Homo sapiens: one gene and its partner. The protein of the gene in region 1 interacts with the protein of each later gene in a pairwise test. Each region holds a gene or a part of one and is shown in the gene's direction. Other genes may lie near its edges.

Region 1 (7,301 bases):
CTGGAAATAAAAAGAGAGTTAAAAGAGAAAGTCTGCAGTAGTAAAGAAGTATACAATGAAATTTGAAGTGAAACAAAACACAAGGAAAATAGAGCCTTAAAGTGTTTGTTAGGAATGCCTAGAAAGCTATCATAGACAGGACAATATTTGCAAGTGGGGAAGGGTGTTGCAAGTGTTGTAGATATGTAGATTAGATTAAAGAAACAAAATCTATAGCTTTTTATGTATCAATCATCCACCATCTTGGACTATGGTGGGACTGAGGAGATGAGGGTCTACAAATACTAATCTTAAAACCAGAAAGACAGGACATTGAACATTTGGATGGATAAACCAACATTGAAAAAAGTCTCAGCAGATGTATTGTTAGAGTAAAACAAGCTCACCACTATCTCAGGGATCTTACCATTTTTTTCTGAGGGGATGGCAACTAGGAACAAATTACATAGTTCCCACTATTTGGGACTTAAGATAGGTAAAATGTCCTTTCTTTTTTTTTTTTAAGTGTGCTGACCATTGTTTAAGTTTTTTTGTTTTTGTTTTTGTTTTTTGAGATGGAGTCTCACTCTGTCACCCAGGCTGGAGTGCAACGGTGTGATCTTGACTCACTGCAACCTCCCCCTCCTGGTTTCAAGTAATTCTCGTGTCTCAGCCTCCCGAGTAGCTGGGATTACAGGCACACACCACCATGCCTGCCTAATTTTTGTATTTTTATAGAGACAGGGTTTCACCATGTTGGCCAGGCTGGTCTTGGACTCCTGACCTCAGCTGATCCGCTCGCCTTGGCCTCCCAAAGTGCTGGGAATACAGGTGTGAGCCACCACACCCGGCCCATTGTTTAATTTTAATGAAAATATTTTTCCCGTAAGATTTTAAATTTGCCAACTGTGAACTTCAGATCCACTTATAAGTCCTAGTTCTCAGGGTTGGTAAAGGAGTATTATGAAGGGACAGGGACCATACACATTCATGTAGTATAGCGACTCATTGCTGGCATTCATCATGATGGGACAGGCATTGACAAGCTATGGCCTGTGGGCCAGATCTGACAGCTTGCCCGTATGTCTCGTGGGCTAAGAATGGTTTTCACATTCCTGAATGGTTGGAAATAAATCAAAAGAAGATCAGTATTTTGTGACCCATGAAATTTAGATGAAATTCAAATTTCAGTGTCTATAAACAAAGTTTTATTGGAACATAGCCATGCTCATTTGGTTACATATTGTCTACAGCTGCTTTCCCGCTGCAGTGGCAGAGTTGAGTAGCTGCAATGGAGACTGTGGGCCCACAGAGCCTGAAATATTTACTATGTGGACCTTTACAGAAAAAGTTTGCCATCTTTTGTTATAGATGAAAGAACCTATCTAAGTGATTGACAGTGAAACCACTGGAGATGAAAGAAATCGTTTTCATTTGGAAAGGAGTTCACAGTGTTTGGTTTCTTGTTCTTTAATTAGAAGTATAGGTTGGAGAAAGGTTCTCAGTTGATTGGCTTATTTGAGGAACACTGGCCGTCACAGCCAAAGCAGATGATGAAGTTAACATGGTTATTCAAAAGGTTGTGATCTTTCAAAGGCAGCAGATGAATTTTTTTTAAGTATTCGTGTTTCAGTTTAAAAATACTCCATGGACAGTTTCCATCTGACTTGCCCCCAAATAGATGTTATTTTAGCTATTTTGATTAGGTTGAATTCGAGTGAAAGAAATCAAGAAACAAATTTGTTAAGAACCAAAATGCTTTGTAGCACACATGGTGAGAGAAGATAACTCAGATATCAAAGAAGCATCAGACATGGGTCCACCCTTGAGAAATGCAGAGGATCAAAGAAGCACACAGAGCAGAAAGGGGTCCCTGGAGGAGGCTAGTATCTACTAGCCATGTCCCAAGGGATGACATTACCCCGGTACATCCTCCAGGGCTCAGGCTGGTCTTGCAATCTCAGAATACTGACTTGTTAGCACATCAAAAATTAATGTATCTTTCAGCAACAGATACACAGGTACCAGACTCTCAGAGACTCTAAAAGCCAGAAAGACAGTTTATTAATTTGACAATAAGATCTGTCACATCAGAGAAGTGGACACTCACGTCCTTTGGCTAATGTATTCTTCCTCTAAGTAAGCCATATGGGAAATCCAATTATTCTCAGAAGTCCGTTTTCTGCATTTACAATGAGAAGCCAAGCTGCCAGGAGGTCAGGATGCTTACATCTTCTGGCCTGTACAGGAGTACATCCTCTTCCTAGAGCAACAGAGCCTGGGAATTGGATGATAATGAGAAGGCAGTTCTGGGAATCGTCCAGGACAGCGTGGCTGCCACCTTTTCCAGTCAGATCACCATTACCTGTGCTCTCACAGCACACTTTGGTCCCACTCTGTAATAACATAGCACAAGTCCGATTCCATTGTAATGGCCTGCTTACTTCTCTTTTCACATCACTTGACTTTAGTCCCTATATTTTATTCATCATTTTATCTTCAGCTTCAGTGCAGTGCCCTGACTAGAGAAGGTGCTAATGGGCCCAGGGCAAGATGGCCACAGGCATCCTTCTCCTCAGGGATGGTGGCCTCTGTAACCCAAAAAGGCCCTTGCACTGGGCCCTTTGCTGGGGAAGGGCGTGGGTGACACCATCCACATCTGCCTCTGTTGCTTCTTCTATGTTTTTTGGCTAATGTGAATACTTTTTTAAAAATGACACTGCATAGCTCTAATCTAATCTATTCTTCCTCCTTAAATCCTCACCCACCTTTGAAAAAAAAACTAACATCTTTTTATTGTGGAAAAAATCAAAATATACAAAAAGAAGAAATAGCAGTATGATTCTTAATTCTTTTTGTTTGTGTGTGTGTTTTTAGACAGGGTCACTCTGTCACCCAGGCTGGAAGGCAGTGGTTTGATCACAACTCACTGCATCCTTGACCTCCTGGGTTCAAACGATCCTCCTGCCTCAGCTTCCTGAGTAGCTGGGACCACAGATGTGTATCTCCATGCCTGGCTAATTTTAAAAATTTTTTGTAGAGATGGAGTCTCCCTATGTTGCCCAGGCTGGTCTCAAACTGCTGGGCTGAAGTGATCTTCCCACCTTGGCCTCCCAAAGTGCTGGGACTATAGGCTTAAGCCACTGTGCCCAGCCAGTATGATCTGTGCCACCCCTTCCCTGGCTCCAACATCATCAACTTACAGCCAACCTTGTTTTGTTTATACCTTCACGCGCTCCCCACTCCCCCCAGGATTATTTTCAAGCAAATCCCATGTATTTCATCTGTAAATATTTTAGTATATGTCTCTAAAAGGTAGTGACTTTTTATAAAGAAAACAATACCACACACATTAAACAACTTGACGTTAGTTCTCTAATATAATCAATTATTCAGTCAGTGTTCAAATGTCCCCATTTACCTCATAACTTTCTTTTTTGCAGTTTGTTTGTATCAAGAGCCAAATAAGTTGCATTTAGTTGATATGTCTATAGGTCTGGGTTCTCTCTTTCTCTCTTTTTCTTCCTTGTAATACATTTCTTGAAGAAACTGGGTTGTTGTTGTTTTTTTCAGTCTGAATTTTCATTGTACCTCCATGCAGTTTTTTAAAACATGTTCCTTTGTCCCCTGTATTTCCTGTAAATTAGTATTTGGGTCTAGAGTTTGACTTTTTGGTAAGAATGCATCACAGAAGTGTTATATATTTCCATAATGAGGTATATAATGTCAAGTGATCTCTTTTCATAATGTTAGCAATATATTGTTTTTAAAGTTTAATGCTTGGGAATTATCTATTTGCAATTTATTGGGAGACATTTCACTGTGGCCTCAAATACATGGGAGCACATGACATATATATTTGGAGTAATTTGAGAACAATACAACCTCATATGTAATTAGGGTTAAATTCTGTTGTGCTGATTTTACTTGCTTTAATCTATTAGGAAAGGAAAGTTTAGCCAGACCTGGACTCCCTCAGACTGGGGATACATGTAGGATTGGTGTGCTCAATCCACACCCTTGACCCTGCTGCCTGGTCTCCTGCATGCAGCCTGGGAGCTGGAAAGAGTCTTCAGAGGAAAAGTGGTGCTTAGCAAAGCAAATCCAGCCTCTTTGTCTTAGTTGGAGTTCTCTCAAATGGATTTCTGGCCCCTCCTGTGAGGTGGGACTGGCAGATACCTTTTGTTGGAATTTCCCATGAGCTTAGAAGATTTTATGGCCCTCTCATCGTAGCTGCTTATTGTCCTGCACCACCTCCTCACACCCCATGCAGCTAGTTTTTCTTCAGTCAGAATAAAATCACGTTTGTGCATCCTCAACAGTGGTCAATGAGAGTGGGTTTTTCCTCCAGTACTTTCACGTCACAGATGAGGGAGAGACTGCCCTAGGAGTACTGAGAGACTGAGGAAAGAGAAAGAGGATGGAAAGAACTGGGTGGGGAGGGAGACAGCGAGAGATCCAGCTGAACATCTGACAGAAAACAATCTGGCTGACGAGCGGAGGCGGACAATCCTGGTGTGTTGACTCAGCTGCATCCGTGTGCACCCTCTTGCTTCCCCTGCCCCAGAAGAAACACAAAGTGCTGCCACTACTCTCTTTTCTCTCCATGCCAGCTCTTTCTTGGCGCAACTATCTGTTTCCTTTGCTGTAACTGCTCAGATTCCTTAAACTCTGTATCTGTGGCTTATCTTCTAGACCAGATGTATTTTTGTCTGTTGGATATTCCCACATGAATATCCCATTAATATTTTGTGGGGCAGACATTGTTTTCCTTCACCTACCTCTGCTATAGAGGCTAGAAAAACAACATAGTTATTTTCCCAATCTTCCTTCAGGTGAGGTGTCCATGTGGCACTGTCTGGCCAATGAGACATAGCAGAAGTCTACAGGAGGCTTCCAGGGAAGCTCTTGCTTTACCCGTGTATTTGATTTCCCCTTCCTCTCTTCTTTCTGCCTGGAGTTACTACCCGAGGCCCGGGCCTGTGGCAGCCATCTTGTAATCCCAGGAGCAAGTGCCCAGAGAAACACAGAGCCCCCAGTTCTGACTTTGTCCACCTGCTGAACCCAGATCAGTAGTTACCCACCTTCAGATTTTTGTTTTGTGAAGAAAAAAGCCCTATTTCTCTAAAGCATTCTTTGTTTGGTGTTCTATCATTTGCCATCAAAATGATCTCTAACCTAACAGATTGATACTTGTCTAAAGTTGACCTCATCTTTTTTAGCCCTGCTCCCCATTTGTTTCTCCTTCTTGCTTTACTATTTTATTTATGATGTCATGACTTCCTCATTCTCAGAACTTTGAAGTTATCTGCATTTTCCCTTTCCTATGTCCTTTTCCACATCTAACCAGTCACTAATTGTCTTGACTTTTATTCCACTTTTATTTCAGGGCCTTAGCATCTGGATCTCCCCGTTTTCTGTTTCCAGTCTGGAAAACATGATATAGTCAAATCAGCTTTGTCTTAGGATCAGCCAGACCTGGATTCAAATTCTGTCACCTCTACCCTCTAGCTATGTGATCTTGGCCAAGTTATTAATCTTTTTGAATCTTTGTTTTCACATCTTCAAATGAGATTCCCAGTGCCTACAGTAATGGCTATGTTGAGGTGTGTGAGCTAATGCAAACGTTGCGTGGTCATCTCTAGAGAGAAAATGTAGTGTAGAGGTTAAAAATTTAGGAGTCAGACTGTATAGGCTCAAACCCCAGTTTTAATTTTATTGATGGTGTAATTTTGGGCAAGTTATTTGGTTCTAGTAGTTACTTTATAGATTCATTGGGATTTTCCCTGTAGACAATCTTGAATGTGAATACTGGTAGTTTTACTTATTCTTTCTGATTTTTATGTCTTCTATTATTTATTTTTCTTGCCTTATTGCATTTGCCAGGAATGCCAGGACAAAATTGAATAGAAGGGGTGAGAATGGATGCTCTTGTTTTGGTTATGATCTTATAAAAAATAGTTTGCTATTTTGCCACATTAGTTGTCTTTCATGTAGTTGTTTTTTTTTAGCAAATTCCCTTTTCTGAAATTATTGAGATGATTATATTATTTTTCTGTTTTATTCTGTAAATATAGTGAATTTACATTGTCTGAATTTCAAATGTTAAGCCAACCTTGCCTTCCTAGAATAGATACTACTTTGTCAACATGCATTATACTTTTTATATATTACTTTATTCAACTTACTAATATTTCATTAATGCTACTTTCATGTCAATTCATGAGGGATATTAGCCTATAACTTTCTTTTCTTATTTTAGTATCAGGATTATTCTGGCTTAATCAAGTGAATTAAGAAACATTTCCTTTTTTCCTATTTTTTCCCTCTATTTTTAAATGAACTTATATAAGATCAATGCTATTTATTTTACAAATGTCTTATAGATGTCATCTGGGCCAGGAGTTTTCTATATGAAAAGCTTTTTAATGACAAATTCAAACTGTAATAGAGGACTGTTCAGATTTTCTTTTCATGTCAGTTTTTATAGTTATTTCAAGGAGTTTGTCCATTTCATCTAAGTTATCAAATTTATTGACATAGAGTTGTTCATAGTATTCCTTATAATCCTTTTAATGCCATTAGGATATGTAGTGTTGTTCTGTCCTTTGTATCCCATATTGGTAATTTGTGTCTTTTTTTTTTAATTCATTCTTACTAGGAGCTTCCCAATTTTGTTAATATTTTAAAAGAAACAACTTTTAGTTGATTTACTGTTTTCTTTGAGAAATTTATTGATTTTTGCTCATTTTTTTTTCCTTTTTTCTCCTTACTTTGGGTTTAACTTATTCTTCTTTTTCTGGCTTCTTAAAGTGGAAACTTAGTTGGTTAATTTTAACCTTTCTTCTTTACTAATATAAGCATTTCAGCTTCAATTTCTCATTTTCAACACAAGGAAGCACAGGTATTTTTTTATTCAGTATTTGTAAACTTAAACTATTTCTGCTGGAGAAGAACAATTAATCAAGCTGATACTGGGACCTCTTGACTCCCTCAGCCTCAAGAATATACTTTGCAATGTGGTGAACAATATCCTCAACAACATTCCAACAGTGATTCAGCAGTGAGTTTCACAGGCTCTTTAAATACAGCATAATTCTAAAGAAACATTAAGAAAGGGTAATTCTGCGAGGGGGCCAATATAATATACAGTTTTCAGGTGATCTGATTTAATCCAAGGAAAGATTGTAGTATATTTTAGAAATAGATGGATTGTGTTTCTTACTGAAAATCCACTATAAATATTGTTTTTTCGCATTTGAGCCGTTAACAATGATTATGATTGAGTTGCAATGACTTTGAAGTAATATTTTCCAATAGAT
Region 2 (3,995 bases), 2.9 Mb from region 1:
GCTGCCTTGACAATCTCAGGGCCAAATTGCATTGCAGTCTAGCATTGGACGATCAAAAAAACCTAAGGACTTCTGGCTTTGGTTAAGTAAGTTTAGTGATCATGATTGGTTAACTTTATTAGGACTTAATTTTCTTATATAGTAAATAGAAGTATGTTATAATTATATTTTTATTTGTAGGGAGCAAGAAGCAAAACAAAAGTTAGAAGAAGATGCTGAAATGGTAAGTATATATTACTGCTATCTAGTACATCTGTAATTCGAAGTTAAATGAATAGCTTTTAAGTCTGAGGACTTTTTCAAGAAAATACGTAAGCAAAGCTATCTATAGTTGTTATTGCATTAAGTAATACATCAGGTATTATATTGAGGGAAAAGAGAAAACTAAGGATAGGAAATATGTTCTAAAATATGGAAAAGGCCGGGTGCAGTGGCCCACGCCTGTAATCCCAGCACTTTGGAAGGCCGAGGCGGGCAGATCAGTTGAGGCACGGAGTTCGAGACCAGCCTGGCCAATATGGTGAAACCCCATCTTGACTAAAAATACAAAAATTAGCCAGGCGTGGTGGTGCATGCCTGTAATCCCAGCTATGTGGGAGGCTGAGGCAGGAGAATCACTTGAACCCAGGAGGCGGAGGTTGCAGTGAACCAAGATCATGCCACTGCAGTCCAGCCTGGGTGACAGAGTGAGACCCTGTTTAAAAATAAAAAATATAATAAAACACAGGAAAATATATTTTGAAATATTCAGAAAAAGTTCATTTATGCCTAGAACTTATTTTTATGAGAAAATGTCCTATAACTTCTAAAGATTCTAATCATAGGTTAATACTAACATGACTTTTATTTTTGACTTAATAAGATACTGATGTGTATTTCCATTTAGAAAGTTACAGGTAAAAATTTTTATTTGGGGAAAATAATGACTATAAAATTTTTTTTTTTCTTTTTTTGAGACCGAGTCTCACTGTTGCCCAGGCTGGAGTGCAGTGGCGCGATCTCGGCTCACTGCAAGCTCCACCTCCCAGATTCATGCCATTCTTCTGCCTCAGCCTCCCGAGTAGCTGGGACTACAGGCGCCTGCCACCACGTCCGGCTAATTTTTTGTATTTTTTTTTAGCAGAGACGGGGTTTCACCATGTTAGCCAGGATGCTCTCGATCTCTTGACCTGGTGATCCGCCTGCCTCGGCCTCCCAAAGTGCTGGGATTACAGGTGTCAGCCACTGCGCCCGGCCTAAAAATTTTTTAAAGTATGATAAATACTGCCTAGAATTATTTTCCAAGATAGTTTAATAGCCAGATTTATGTAGTTTATAACTAATTAAATACCAGTTGTATAAGAGATCAAATAATATTGAAAGCCATTTTGGAATAAAGGATGACAAAGGAAAACACCAACACTATGAAACTACTTTATTTATTTATTATTATTATTATTTTTTGAGATGGAGTTTCGCTCTTGCTGCCCCGGCGGAAGAAACTACTTTAAAATAGCATTTTGGTTTCTAGTCTTTTTCTTGTATAGCTATAAGGTGGTGTGAGTCATTTCTGGTCTGTTGTTGCTTTTAAGAAACTTTTTGATCACTTTGTATATTTTTATAGAAATCTCTAGAAGAAAAGATTGGATGCTTGCTGAAATTTTCGGGTGATTTAGATGATCAGACCTGTAGAGAAGATTTACACATACTTTTCTCAAATCATGGTGAAATAAAATGGATAGACTTCGTCAGAGGAGCAAAAGAGGTTTGGATACATCCCTATCCTTTTTAGCAATCAGTTTGAAAATCTGTAGAAACTTAGACAAAATTAGTAGAAAGTAATTTTAAAAATTGTGTTTATTAAATTAGTTTCTACTTGATCATTTGTTATTGCCACTAGATGTGATGTCTGATATTTTCTGAATTATACTAAATTAGTTTCTACTTGATCATTTACTTTGTTGTTATTGTCACTATATGTGATGTCTGATAGTTTCTGAATTATACTATGAATAACTGTTCATACTGATGATTGCAGTTTTACTTCTGTAGCATTCCTTTTCTACTGTTCAGTAAAATTCATTCAAACTGGTAAAGACATGGAAGGTTTGCAGGGTAGAAAAAATTACTTTGGACAAAGAAATTAATTGTGGGACTAAAAACCAAGGGTATGGCTTTTGTTTTCTGTCTCTGGTATAGGGGATAATTCTATTTAAAGAAAAAGCCAAGGAAGCATTGGGTAAAGCCAAAGATGCAAATAATGGTAACCTACAATTAAGGAACAAAGAAGTGACTTGGGAAGTACTAGAAGGAGAGGTGGAAAAAGAAGCACTGAAGAAAATAATAGAAGACCAACAAGAATCCCTAAACAAATGGAAGTCAAAAGGTCATTTATTCTGATTTTTCTTTAACAGTTTGGTTGTTGAACCCATTTACTTGAGCAAAAACTTTAATCAGTGTTCAAAAACATTGACAAGAGACTTAAAAAAAGTTCTTTACAGAGTGCTCAATTGTGTCTCTACAGGTCGTAGATTTAAAGGAAAAGGAAAGGGTAATAAAGCTGCCCAGCCTGGGTCTGGTAAAGGAAAAGTACAGTTTCAGGGCAAGAAAACGAAATTTGCTAGTGATGATGAACATGATGAACATGATGAAAATGGTGCAACTGGTAAGTTTTTTTTAAGTCCTTTGGTAGTTTCATGAGAAAATTTCTACTTCCATAAATAAATGATTTGCCAGAGAGAATAGGGATTTGGCTTTTCAACTCCTGGATAAGTGCCATTCTTGGATTATTAACGATTTACCTCGGTTATGCTGTTGTATAAGTCAGGGACAGGATATTTGGAAGATGAATCTAGAGGTCAGGTCTGTACTAAGAGAAAAGCCTTTTCTCATTGGTGCAAGGAAGTTGTTGCATCTTTTTCAACAGTATCATTATTAGTAATTGTGCTCAGTATTAAACTAGAGCAGTACTTACGTTGAATTTAACAAAAATTAATTGTTACGTTATAGGACCTGTGAAAAGAGCAAGAGAAGAAACAGACAAAGAAGAACCTGCATCCAAACAACAGAAAACAGAAAATGGTGCTGGAGACCAGTAGTTTAGTAAACCAATTTTTTATTCATTTTAAATAGGTTTTAAACGACTTTTGTTTGCGGGGCTTTTAAAAGGAAAACCGAATTAGGTCCACTTCAATGTCCACCTGTGAGAAAGGAAAAATTTTTTTGTTGTTTAACTTGTCTTTTTGTTATGCAAATGAGATTTCTTTGAATGTATTGTTCTGTTTGTGTTATTTCAGATGATTCAAATATCAAAAGGAAGATTCTTCCATTAAATTGCCTTTGTAATATGAGAATGTATTAGTACAAACTAACTAATAAAATATATACTATATGAAAAGAGCAAAAACAGTTTTTGATTTTTTTTTTCTTTTTGTACCCAAAGCATTTAGGAAAGAACTAGAATATTAGCTATTGACGATGGGCCTTTCCCACAGGCCATTTATGGTGTCTCCTAGGCTGGCTTTGTATATTTACACAGGAAAGTTGGTAACACTAGAAATAATTACTTGTCACAAAGCTTTCCTTTTTTTTTCTTTTTCGAGACTGAGTCTCACTCTTATCGCGCAGGCTGGAGTTCAGTGGGGCAATCTCAGCTCACTGCAACCTCTGCCTCCTGAGTTCAAGCGATTCTCTTGCCTCAGCCTCCCGAGTAGCTGGGATTACAGGCATGAACCACCACATCCGGCCCAGAAAGCTTTTCAATACCGAATGTAGACCAGCCAAAATCAAGAGACTTACTGATTTCTTTTTGTGAAACTTGTATGATGCTGGCAGGTCATATCGAAGTTCTGTAAAACAAAAGCCACCTAAGGATAAAATTGTATTTCCAAGCGTTTACCACCCTTGACTAAACAACAACAACAACAAAAACTAAGAAAAGTGTTAAGTGCTGGTAAGCTGAACATTTTAGAACCTTTAACTTATCCAAGTAGTGACTTCTGTATTCCTAGCATTAG

Evidence for each region.
Region 2: the proteins of RAPGEF4 (region 1) and SSB interact in binary tests that used the Homo sapiens proteins (3 or more experiments, as listed by UniProt).

What each region holds. Positions count from the first base shown.
Region 1 is NC_000002.12:172,738,839-172,746,139, forward strand, and holds part of RAPGEF4 (rap guanine nucleotide exchange factor 4), read left to right. Parts: intron 1-7,301.
Region 2 is NC_000002.12:169,808,680-169,812,674, forward strand, and holds the end of SSB (lupus La protein), read left to right. Parts: intron 1-180; coding exon 181-223; intron 224-1,603; coding exon 1,604-1,744; intron 1,745-2,178; coding exon 2,179-2,365; intron 2,366-2,503; coding exon 2,504-2,644; intron 2,645-2,988; coding exon 2,989-3,077; 3' UTR 3,078-3,140; coding exon of another isoform or gene 3,141-3,179; 3' UTR 3,180-3,385; downstream 3,386-3,995. Other genes in the region: rRNA N(6)-adenosine-methyltransferase METTL5, read right to left, coding at 3,141-3,179, 3,778-3,827. UniProt on the Homo sapiens protein: Binds to the 3' poly(U) terminus of nascent RNA polymerase III transcripts, protecting them from exonuclease digestion and facilitating their folding and maturation.